3 linked regions of the Homo sapiens genome follow. The protein of the gene in region 1 purifies or fractionates together with the protein of each later gene. This does not show direct contact. Each region holds a gene or a part of one and is shown in the gene's direction. Other genes may lie near its edges. The genes, in order: DCN, PLAT and KLHL17.

Region 1 (3,653 bases):
AGTAAGTGCAAAAACAAAAAATGTCCTTTCCTATAGACTTGATTAACTACACAATGCTTGTAAGAAAGGCATCCATGTGTGGTGTTTGCTTTCATTTCTGCTTTCTGTTGCAGGTTGGGATTGAGTTTCAACAGCATCTCTGCTGTTGACAATGGCTCTCTGGCCAACACGCCTCATCTGAGGGAGCTTCACTTGGACAACAACAAGCTTACCAGAGTACCTGGTGGGCTGGCAGAGCATAAGTACATCCAGGTAATGCAAAGCCACTGCTTATGTGAGGAATATCCAAAAAGCAAGACCCCCACCCTGCTTATGGGATGCTGGGAAGCAGGAAGCTCTTCTTAGAAGTTTTTTTTCCAGAGTGTCTTAGTTAGAATTTCTATGACAAAATACCATAAAAAAAATTAAATCATGAAGCACAATTTACATTAGCTAGATTTCAATAAAGTTTTTGATTTAGAAGTATGGAGATGAAACTTAAAGTCTTCTGTAATGCTGATATTTTTTTCAGTAGGGGTGGTGATGTTGGTGCCATAGTGAGTAGGGGGAGTTTGAAGCCACAAGTAAAATAAAAATTCTTTTTTTTTACTGTCACTAATTTTAATTTTCAAATTATTCAAGAATTGACTGGAAAGAGCTTCTTTGGTCTAGCTCCTGATTCTTTTTGACATGGCCTCATCATTTTTCTTTATTTCCTCTAAAAAAAAAATGAGATACGTTTGCAGAATGTGCAGGTTTGTTATATAGGTATACGTGTGCCATGGTGGTTTGCTGGCCCTACTGACCCATCCTCTAAGTTCGCCCGCTCACCCCCTACCCCCTGTTGTGTGTTTTGTTACCCTCTCTGTGTCCGTGTGTTCTCAGCATTCAACTTCCATTTATGCGTGAGAACATGCAGTATTTGGTTTTCTGTTCCTGTGTTAGTTTGCTGAGGATGATGGCTTCTAGTTTCATCCATGTCCTTGTAAAGGACATGATCCCATTCCTTTTTATGGCTGCATAGTATTCCACGGTGTATATGTACCACATTTCCTTTATCCAGTCTATCATTGATGTGCATTTGGATTGGTTCCATGTTTTTGCTATTGTAAAATAGTGCTGCAATAAACATTATGTGTGCATATGTCTTTATAGTAGAATGATTTATATTTCTTTGGGTATATACCCAGTAATGGGATTGCTGGGTCAAATGGTATTTCTGGTTCTACATCCTTGAGGAATTGCTACACTGTCTTTCACAATGGTTGAACTAATTTATGCTCTCACCAACAATGTAAAAGCACTCCTATTTCTCCACAGCCTCATCAGCATCTACTGTTTCCTGACTTTTTAATAATCACCATACTGACTGGCATGAGATAATATCTCATCTCCAGCCACAGGGAATCATTAATCTATTTTATCATTTTTGTTTGTTTCATAGACCATAGTTTTGTGTAGATTCCAGGAATACTTTAACATCTAGAAATTTTATAATTTTAACTCCTGTATTTGGTTTTATAATCTAATTTTGAGATAATCCTAGTATATGATATGAGTCTAATTCATTTTCTGTATGTGATAGCAATTGTCCCAATGTCATTTGTTGGAAATAATATTCTTTCTCCAATGAATTGTCTTGTCACTGTTGAAAATCACTCGATCATAAATGTAAGGGTTTATTTCTGGACTTTCAATTCTATTACATTTATCTATATGTCTAGTCATATGACAGTATTATACCCTTCAATTACTGTAGCTTTTGATTACGTTTTGAAATTAGAAAATGTAGGTTCTCCAACTTTGTTCTTTTTTTTCAAAGTTATTTTGGCTATTCTGGTTCCTTTGCATTCCATATCAATTTTAGGATCTACTTTTTCATTTCTGGAAAAATATTCTTGTAAGGCTTTGAAAGGTATTGTTTTGAATCTACAGATCATTGGGAAGAATTACTATCTTAATAATATTGAGCCTTCCAAGTCACAAACAAGGGTTATTTATATCTTCTTTTCTTTTTCTCAACAGTTTTTGTCATTTTTAGCATACATGCCTTGCAATTCTTTTACTACATTCATTGTTTTTCATTCTTTTTGATGCTGTTTTGAATTGTTAATTTTTTTATTTGTTTGCTGCTAATGTATAAACATACAATTGATGTTTATATATTGAGCTATCCTGGTACTATGCCAAATTTGTTTTTAGTTGCAGTAATTTTTGTGAGTTCCTTTGGATATTCTATATTCAGGATATATTATTTAAAAATAGACAGCTTTAGTTATTTTATTTGGATTCTTTTAGGTCTCCCCCTCCCCCACAACCCACCCTTTGCATTGGCTGGAATCGCCAGTGCAATGTTGAACAAAGGTGATGAAATTAGACATCTTTGCCTTATTTGCTAGTTTAGGAGGAGGGAGCATTCATTTTACCATTAGTTACGATGTTAGCCACAGGTCTTCTATAGATGCTCTTTATCAAGTTGAGGAAGTTCCCTTCTATTTCTGATTTACTGAAAACATTTATTATGAATTTTTTTCTTACATGTTTTTCCTGCTTCTATTGAGATAATCATGCGAGTTTTGGCCTTTATATTTTTGATATAGTGTATTACATTGATATTACTTTGATTGATTTTCATAAGTTAAACCAATTTTACAACCCTGAGATAAATCATGTTTGGTCCTATAGCATGAAATCATTTTATATGTTGTGAAATGTAGCTTCCTAACATTTTGTGAAAGATTTTTTGTCCATATTCATAAGAGGTATTTGATTACATTTTTTTTTCTTATGATGAATTTTGTCTGGCTTTGGTCTTAGAAAATATTGACCCCATAGAATGAGTTTGGAATCTACTTTTATTTTGTTCTACACAGACTAATACTTACGTCTTGATATTTTGTTCTCTCACTTTCAATATTAACCATAAATTGCTCACCAAACACCCCTTCCTTTACTTGCTAATCACTACTGGAATATAGAGGATGGTAAATGACAACAAGAAACTTCCAAAATATGAGAACCATAAACCATACATATAAGTGTTGCTTTCACTTTAATATTCCTTGTTTCTGTTTTTATATGACATCTACTAATTCGCTTTTCAGCCCTTACAAAAACAAAGCCGTTTTCACCAGCACATGAATGTGAATGTCCTAGTGGGTAGAACAATATTTCAAATTTTTTTTTTTTTTTTTTTTTTTTTTTTGAGTCGGAGCGTCTCGCTCTGTCACCTAGGCTGGACTGCATACAATGGCACAATCTCGGCTCACTGCAACCTCCGCCTCTCGGGTTCAAGAAATTCTCCTGCCTCAGCCTCCCGAGTAGCTGGGATTACAGGCACGTGCCGCCATGCCATGCTAATTTTTGTATTTTTAGTAGAAACGGGGTTTCATCATGTTGGTGAGGCTGGTCTTGAACACCTGACCTCATGATCCATCCGCCTCGGCCTCCCAAAGTGCTGAGATTACAGACATAAGCCACCACGCCCAGGCTTTCAAGTTATGTTTTAAGGGAGTACTTCATAGGTTTTATAGCTCACTTAAGATCTTGTTGGTGGCAGGACGCAGTGGCTCATGCCAGTAATCCCAGCACTTTGGGAGGCTGAGGTGGGCGGATCACGATGTCAGGAGATCGAGACCATCCTGGCTAACATGGTGAAACCCCCTCTCTACTAA
Region 2 (3,653 bases), on another chromosome or scaffold:
GCAGCACTCCACGGCTCATACCCTCCTCCTTCCCAAGCCCATCATCAGATCCTCAGGACACTGGCAGACACAGTCCGAGAAATAACCCCCACCCCAGCCCCACTGAAGCACGTTGGTTCACTGCAGCCTGTTAAGTAACACAAGGAAACCCCTACTGGCTTTCAAAGCAGCTTCAGAAACAGCCCCCACTCATGGAAGTGGTTCTTCCTGCTGAACCTGAAGATGTCCCCAGACTCTCTCTCAACATAGCAATCTAGGGAGCCACTTCCGGTGGAGATGAAACCCCCTTGCCATCTCTAAGTAAAAGGACTCAAAGAGGGGGAAAAAGGCTCAGGCCGGGCGTGTTGGCTCACACCTGTACTCCCAGCACTTTGGGAGGCTGAGGCGGGCAGATCACCTGATGTTAGGAGTTCAAGACCAGCCTGGCCAACATGGTGAAACCCTGTCTCAACTAAAAATACAAAATTAGCGTAGCATGGTGGCGCATGCCTGTAACCCCACCTACTCGGGAGGCTGAGGTAGAAGAATCGCTTGAACCCAGGAGGTGGAGATTGCAGTGAGCCAAGATCGCGCATTGCACTCCAGCCTGGGCAACAAAAGGGGAAGTGTGAGGTGTTACACTCTTCTCAGTGCCGGGCTAGCGGCCTCCAGCTTCCTCGACCGGCAGCTCCGCTTCAAGCCCCAGCCCTGACTTGCGTGCTTCAGAATTTGTTTTTGTTTCAGTTTGAGAATTCTTTTCTTCTAGGAAACAGTGACTGCTACTTTGGGAATGGGTCAGCCTACCGTGGCACGCACAGCCTCACCGAGTCGGGTGCCTCCTGCCTCCCGTGGAATTCCATGATCCTGATAGGCAAGGTTTACACAGCACAGAACCCCAGTGCCCAGGCACTGGGCCTGGGCAAACATAATTACTGCCGGTAGGTAGCACAGGGGTGGGGGGTTCAGGTCTTGGCAGAACGTGGGATTAGGGTGTGAGACGGGGGAAGATCCAATGTCTCAAGTTGCATGACAGACCCAGTGCGTGGGAAGCACCCATGGATATTATCTAATCCAACCTCTTCACTTGCTAGAATAACACATATTGTGAAAAGCAAGGTCTACCAGTTTTCCAACCTAAATCCCAAGTTAAGGGTCCTGGCCTGTAACCATTTAGTCCTCAGCTGTTCTCCTGACATCTTTATTGCAATGATTTGTAAGAGTTCCGTAACAGGACAGCTCACAGTTCTGTCTGACAACCCTATGAGATTAGAACACTACATTACTGACTGGGTAACAAAGTTAAAGAGAAGTTCTCCTAGGGTGGGGGTGTGCTGCAAGGTCAAGATGAACTCGGTGTCCTCCCTCCCAGCTCAGTGGTTTTCATTGGTTGACTGAGTCTCCTTCTACTCTTACATGGCCTGTGATGTGGCTGAAAATGGGATTGAAAATCTTAAACTCCTGGCCTGGTGTGGTGGTGCATGCCTGTAATCCCAGCACTTTGGGAGGCTGAGGCAGGAGGATTGCTTGAGCCCAGGAGTTCAAGACCAGCCTGGGCAACATGGCAAGACCCCATCTCTACAAAAATTAAAAAATAAGAAGATAAAAAGGAAACCTTAAACTCTCTTATCATTTAGGAATCCTGATGGGGATGCCAAGCCCTGGTGCCACGTGCTGAAGAACCGCAGGCTGACGTGGGAGTACTGTGATGTGCCCTCCTGCTGTAAGGGCTGGGCCCCGGCTGCCTCCCTGCACCTGGTCTCCCTTCTTCACCATCTCCTCGCCACTTTCTAGGCCTTCATGGCTGTCTGGTGCAGACTGTGTGCCTACCAGACTTCCAGGCTGGGTGGGGAGGGGGCTTCCATGACTGAAGCCACGGTGGGTGGGCGGGTGTCCATGACCCATGCATGGGGGTGGTGGGGAGGGGCAAGAAGAAAGAAAAGAACACAGCAACCTCTCTGAGAAGTCAGTAGGCTCTACCCGGCTCTCTCTAGACGCCTCTATTGGTGTTGCTGAGAGTAATGGGGAATGAGGAGGAGGCCTCGCATGCATGGCTCCTTAGATAATAAAGTGCCTTCACCACATTTGTCCAACAGCGTGGTGGAGGTGGTCTTCCTACCTCCAGTTTACTGAGTAGGAAGCAGTCTCCCAGACGCCAGGTGGCCTGCCCAAGCTCGCTGGGCACCGGGAGGTAAAGCTAGGGCCTGCCCTCATGCCCTCTGACCCCAATGGCATGTACTTCCACTGTGAGATCTTCCACGTTTCCTGTTGACCTATTTCACACAGGGGAGCTGGCTCATGATGTGGGTGAGAGATAGGAGATTCAAGTTGGTGCATATTGCTAAAAAATGAAACTTTAGTTTGGAAATGGCCAGAGAGTAGGTTATTAATCACCTCCTGTGAACACAGATCAGCCAGAATGTTCCCCAAGGAACACAAGTCCAACTGGGACGATGAGACACAGACCACCAGCTAACTCACACCCAAGGGCATTAGTGTGAGTCCTCAGTGGTCCGTGTCCCTAAGCTCCTCAGAGCTGAGCAGGTGGGGACGTCAGGAAAGCTTTGCGAGGAGGCAGGATTGCACCTGGGCCTTGAAGCATGGGTAAGGTTGGACAGATGGAAAAGAAATGAGCAGACATTCCACAGAAGGAAGCTGCAATTCTTCATTTCTTAGGCCAGGAAATGGCTGTAGGAAAACATTAGAAGGAATGAAGGATGGCAGATCCCCAGTTTTGGAGTCAAACATACTTGGGAACTAATCCAGGTGCCATTGCAACCTTGGGCAAAAACGTCTCCGCCTCCTGAAACTTATCGCTGTGGGAACTAAAGAGAATGTATGGACAACATTCGGCATGCTGATCCCACCAAGTGAAAGTTGTGGTTTTACAGCCATGCTGATGGCCTCCTCACTCTACCTACACACGTGCAGGAGGCCTGTGGGACTGACTGCCTCCTCGTCCTTTCCTCCCCAGCCACCTGCGGCCTGAGACAGTACAGCCAGCCTCAGTTTCGCATCAAAGGAGGGCTCTTCGCCGACATCGCCTCCCACCCCTGGCAGGCTGCCATCTTTGCCAAGCACAGGAGGTCGCCCGGAGAGCGGTTCCTGTGCGGGGGCATACTCATCAGCTCCTGCTGGATTCTCTCTGCCGCCCACTGCTTCCAGGAGAGGTAGGGGCTCGGAAACCCAGTTGGTTTTTCCACCCTCTAACGCCTAGAAACCAAGCCCTTTAGGGGAAATCCCACAGCAAAAAAAGCATTCTAAGGCTGTTTCTCCACCAGGTTTCCGCCCCACCACCTGACGGTGATCTTGGGCAGAACATACCGGGTGGTCCCTGGCGAGGAGGAGCAGAAATTTGAAGTCGAAAAATACATTGTCCATAAGGAATTCGATGATGACACTTACGACAATGACATTGGTAAGAGCTCGTCATTCCCGGCTCCAGTTCATACAGATCACACAACACACCCACATGCACTCACCTATGTTTACACACACGGGCCTCCTCCTCCAGCCCCTGCCCCTCCTGCGTGTTCCTCCCCTCCCGGGGACGCGGCCCTCACGCCAGCTCACTCCTCCTTTCTCCCTCCCAGCGCTGCTGCAGCTGAAATCGGATTCGTCCCGCTGTGCCCAGGAGAGCAGCGTGGTCCGCACTGTGTGCCTTCCCCCGGCGGACC
Region 3 (2,789 bases), on another chromosome or scaffold:
GTTGGGGCCCCAGTGGCTTTGTACAGTCCATCTGCAAGAGGCAAGTTTGTGTCACCATCACAGGGGTCGTATCTGATGGGGTGTTAAAGGAGGTGATCCGCGAGGCCGTTTCACCCCAGGCCACTGCCACACTGGGCCTGAACTCTTGGCTTTGCTGCCCCAGTGCCCTTTCCTCTCTCGGGTCCTTACCCCCAGTCCAGAGGCTGGGCCCAGGTGGGTGTGCACCCAGGGTTGTTCAGGCAGCCAGGGTCCTGTGCCCACCAGCGGGCCCTGCCTGGTAGGACTTTGCGGTCTGAGTTTGACTCCTAGGGTAAGATTTCAGCCATTCCGCTGGGGAGGGCAGGTCCTGGGGCCGGGACGCCTTTCTGTCTCTGCTGAGCTGTGGCTGCGGTCCTGGTGCCCACAGTGCTGAACGCTACGACCCCCTGACCGGAACGTGGACGTCCGTCGCTGCCATGAGCACCCGGAGGCGCTATGTGCGAGTGGCCACGCTTGGTGGGTGATGGGGCCTGCCTGGGGGGCATCCCCACCTTCCCCCACCGTGGAGACCCCACTCCCAGCAGGAGTGCCACGGGTGTGTTGACTTCCGGCAGATGGGAACCTGTATGCTGTGGGCGGCTACGACAGCTCCTCACACCTGGCCACTGTGGAGAAGTATGAGCCCCAGGTGCATAGTGCACCCCTCCTGGCCACCCCCTCCCGTGCGCCGCGGGGCCCTCCTCCCTCTGTTTACCCACATCCCCCCCATTCCTGACACCCCACCCTGGAGTCGGGGCTGCGGCAGAGGAGGGATGCCAGTGGCGGGTCTGCGTCCAGCCCACGCCCTCGCCCCCAGGTGAACGTGTGGTCGCCCGTGGCGTCCATGCTGAGCCGACGCAGCTCAGCGGGCGTGGCCGTGCTGGAGGGTGCCCTGTACGTGGCAGGGGGCAACGACGGCACCAGCTGCCTCAACTCGGTAGAGAGATACAGTCCAAAGGCTGGAGCCTGGGAAAGCGTGGCGCCCATGAATATCCGCAGGTCCGCAGTGGGGCTGCGGGGAGGGGGGCGCGGGTCCGCAGTGGGGCTGTGGGAGGGGTCCGCGCGTCCGCAGTGGGGATGTGCTGCGGGGAGGGGGGCGCGGGTCCGCAGTGGGGATGTGCTGCCGGGAGGGGGGCGCGGGTCCGCAGTGGGGATGTGCTGCCGGGAGGGGGGCGCGGGTCCGCAGTGGGGATGTGCTGCCGGGAGGGGGGCGCGGGTCCGCAGTGGGGATGTGCTGCCGGGAGGGGGGCGCGGGTCCGCAGTGGGGATGTGCTGCCGGGAGGGGGGCGCGGGTCCGCAGTGGGGATGTGCTGTGAGAAGGGAGTTCTCCCAACCTCAGCGAGCATGTCCCGCCACCACCCCTTTTTGTGGTGCAGCCCCTCCCCCCGCATCCCTTCCTGCAGCCAGGGGCTCACCCCGCCTTCCCCCCAGGAGCACGCATGACCTGGTGGCCATGGACGGATGGTTGTACGCCGTGGGGGGTAACGACGGTAGCTCCAGCCTCAACTCCATCGAGAAGTACAACCCGAGGACCAACAAGTGGGTGGCCGCATCCTGCATGTTCACCCGGCGCAGCAGTGTGGGTGTGGCGGTGCTGGAGCTGCTCAATTTCCCGCCGCCATCCTCCCCGACGCTGTCCGTGTCCTCCACCAGCCTCTGACCCACCTACCACCAGAGGCCTGCAGCCTCCCACATGCCTTAAGGGGACCGTGGCCCCCACCAGGGACGTCCTGCGCCATCCGTTCACGTCTCTGCATCCATTCCTTCATGTCTTTATTTAGTTGTTTATTTATTTAGTTATTTATCTTATTTATTGAGGGGTGAGGAGTGCCACGGCTGCCCGTTTACACCTTTAGCGTCTGGTCCTCCTGCGTGTCCTCCCCTCCACTGCCTGCATGGGGGGCGCGGGGAGTGACCAGGCGGGGGCCTCACCGCCCCAGGGCCGTTGCCTGCTCAGACCTTGCAGGCTGTGGAGCAAGAGGCCCTGGGTCTCTCCAAGCAGCTGCAGACCCCAGCTCGAATTTTGCACATGGCGGGGTCCCGGGAAGGGTGGGGAGCAGTTGTCCTTCCTGTCGTCGTCTGCCGTGTGCCATCTTTCCTGGATCTTGTAGTGGGTGCACACGCGTGCACTGGGACCCCACACAGCAATACGAGTCCAACTTAATAAACACATTTCTGGGGTTCCTCAGGCTGAGCATCTCTCTCTGGCATGTGGGGCAGCTGCGCAACTTTGGGTCCTGTCTGGGGTCCAGGGTGAGGGGTGTGGGGGGGTGCCCTGAGATGCGCAGGCATCTGGGAGCTGCAAGGCAGAGCTGTGCGTCCAGGGAGGGTGGGGGCCGTGCAGTTCCTGTGGACCAGCGTCCCAGTGTGGGTGGCGTTTGCCTGGGCTGGGTACTGAGGCCGAGGTCCCCGCCACATCGTGGGCTCTGGGGTTAGGGCTGGGGAGGACAGCCTTGCCCCCGAGTGCGCTGACTGTCTTGGCCGTCTAGGGGGCATGTGGCCTCCCTGAGTCCCCTTAAGCCTTGGGGACCCTGACTCGGGTCTGTGGCGAGGGGGCCCAGGCAGGAGGGGAGGCTGCGGTGGCTTTGGCCGCCGTCTCCTGTGCTGGAACTCCTGCCTCAGCCCTCCCTGCAGTCACCGGTGACTCGGGCCGGCCAGAGTTTAGATGGAAACAGGATGTGTGGGCACGTTGTCCCGGGGGGCCTGGAAGGTCGCCCCGGGTTCACCAAGCCGGAGCACAAGCAGGTGGGGTACCTCTGCACACTGGAGGC

The links.
Region 2: the proteins of DCN (region 1) and PLAT purify together in Homo sapiens (affinity purification with mass spectrometry, with the first as the bait; one large-scale study listed by BioGRID). This does not show direct contact.
Region 3: the proteins of DCN (region 1) and KLHL17 purify together in Homo sapiens (affinity purification with mass spectrometry; 3 studies listed by BioGRID and IntAct, with this or other methods). This does not show direct contact.

Annotation. Positions count from the first base shown.
Region 1 is NC_000012.12:91,148,253-91,151,905, reverse strand, and holds part of DCN (decorin isoform a preproprotein), read left to right. Parts: intron 1-113; coding exon 114-252; intron 253-3,653. UniProt on the Homo sapiens protein: May affect the rate of fibrils formation.
Region 2 is NC_000008.11:42,179,983-42,183,635, reverse strand, and holds part of PLAT (tissue-type plasminogen activator isoform 1 preproprotein), read left to right. Parts: intron 1-745; coding exon 746-917; intron 918-1,613; coding exon 1,614-1,699; intron 1,700-2,950; coding exon 2,951-3,146; intron 3,147-3,257; coding exon 3,258-3,394; intron 3,395-3,569; coding exon 3,570-3,653. UniProt on the Homo sapiens protein: Converts the abundant, but inactive, zymogen plasminogen to plasmin by hydrolyzing a single Arg-Val bond in plasminogen.
Region 3 is NC_000001.11:963,514-966,302, forward strand, and holds the end of KLHL17 (kelch-like protein 17), read left to right. Parts: intron 1-406; coding exon 407-495; intron 496-593; coding exon 594-667; intron 668-835; coding exon 836-1,017; intron 1,018-1,449; coding exon 1,450-1,678; 3' UTR 1,679-2,206; downstream 2,207-2,789. UniProt on the Homo sapiens protein: Substrate-recognition component of some cullin-RING-based BCR (BTB-CUL3-RBX1) E3 ubiquitin-protein ligase complexes. The BCR(KLHL17) complex mediates the ubiquitination and subsequent degradation of GLUR6. May play a role in the actin-based neuronal function.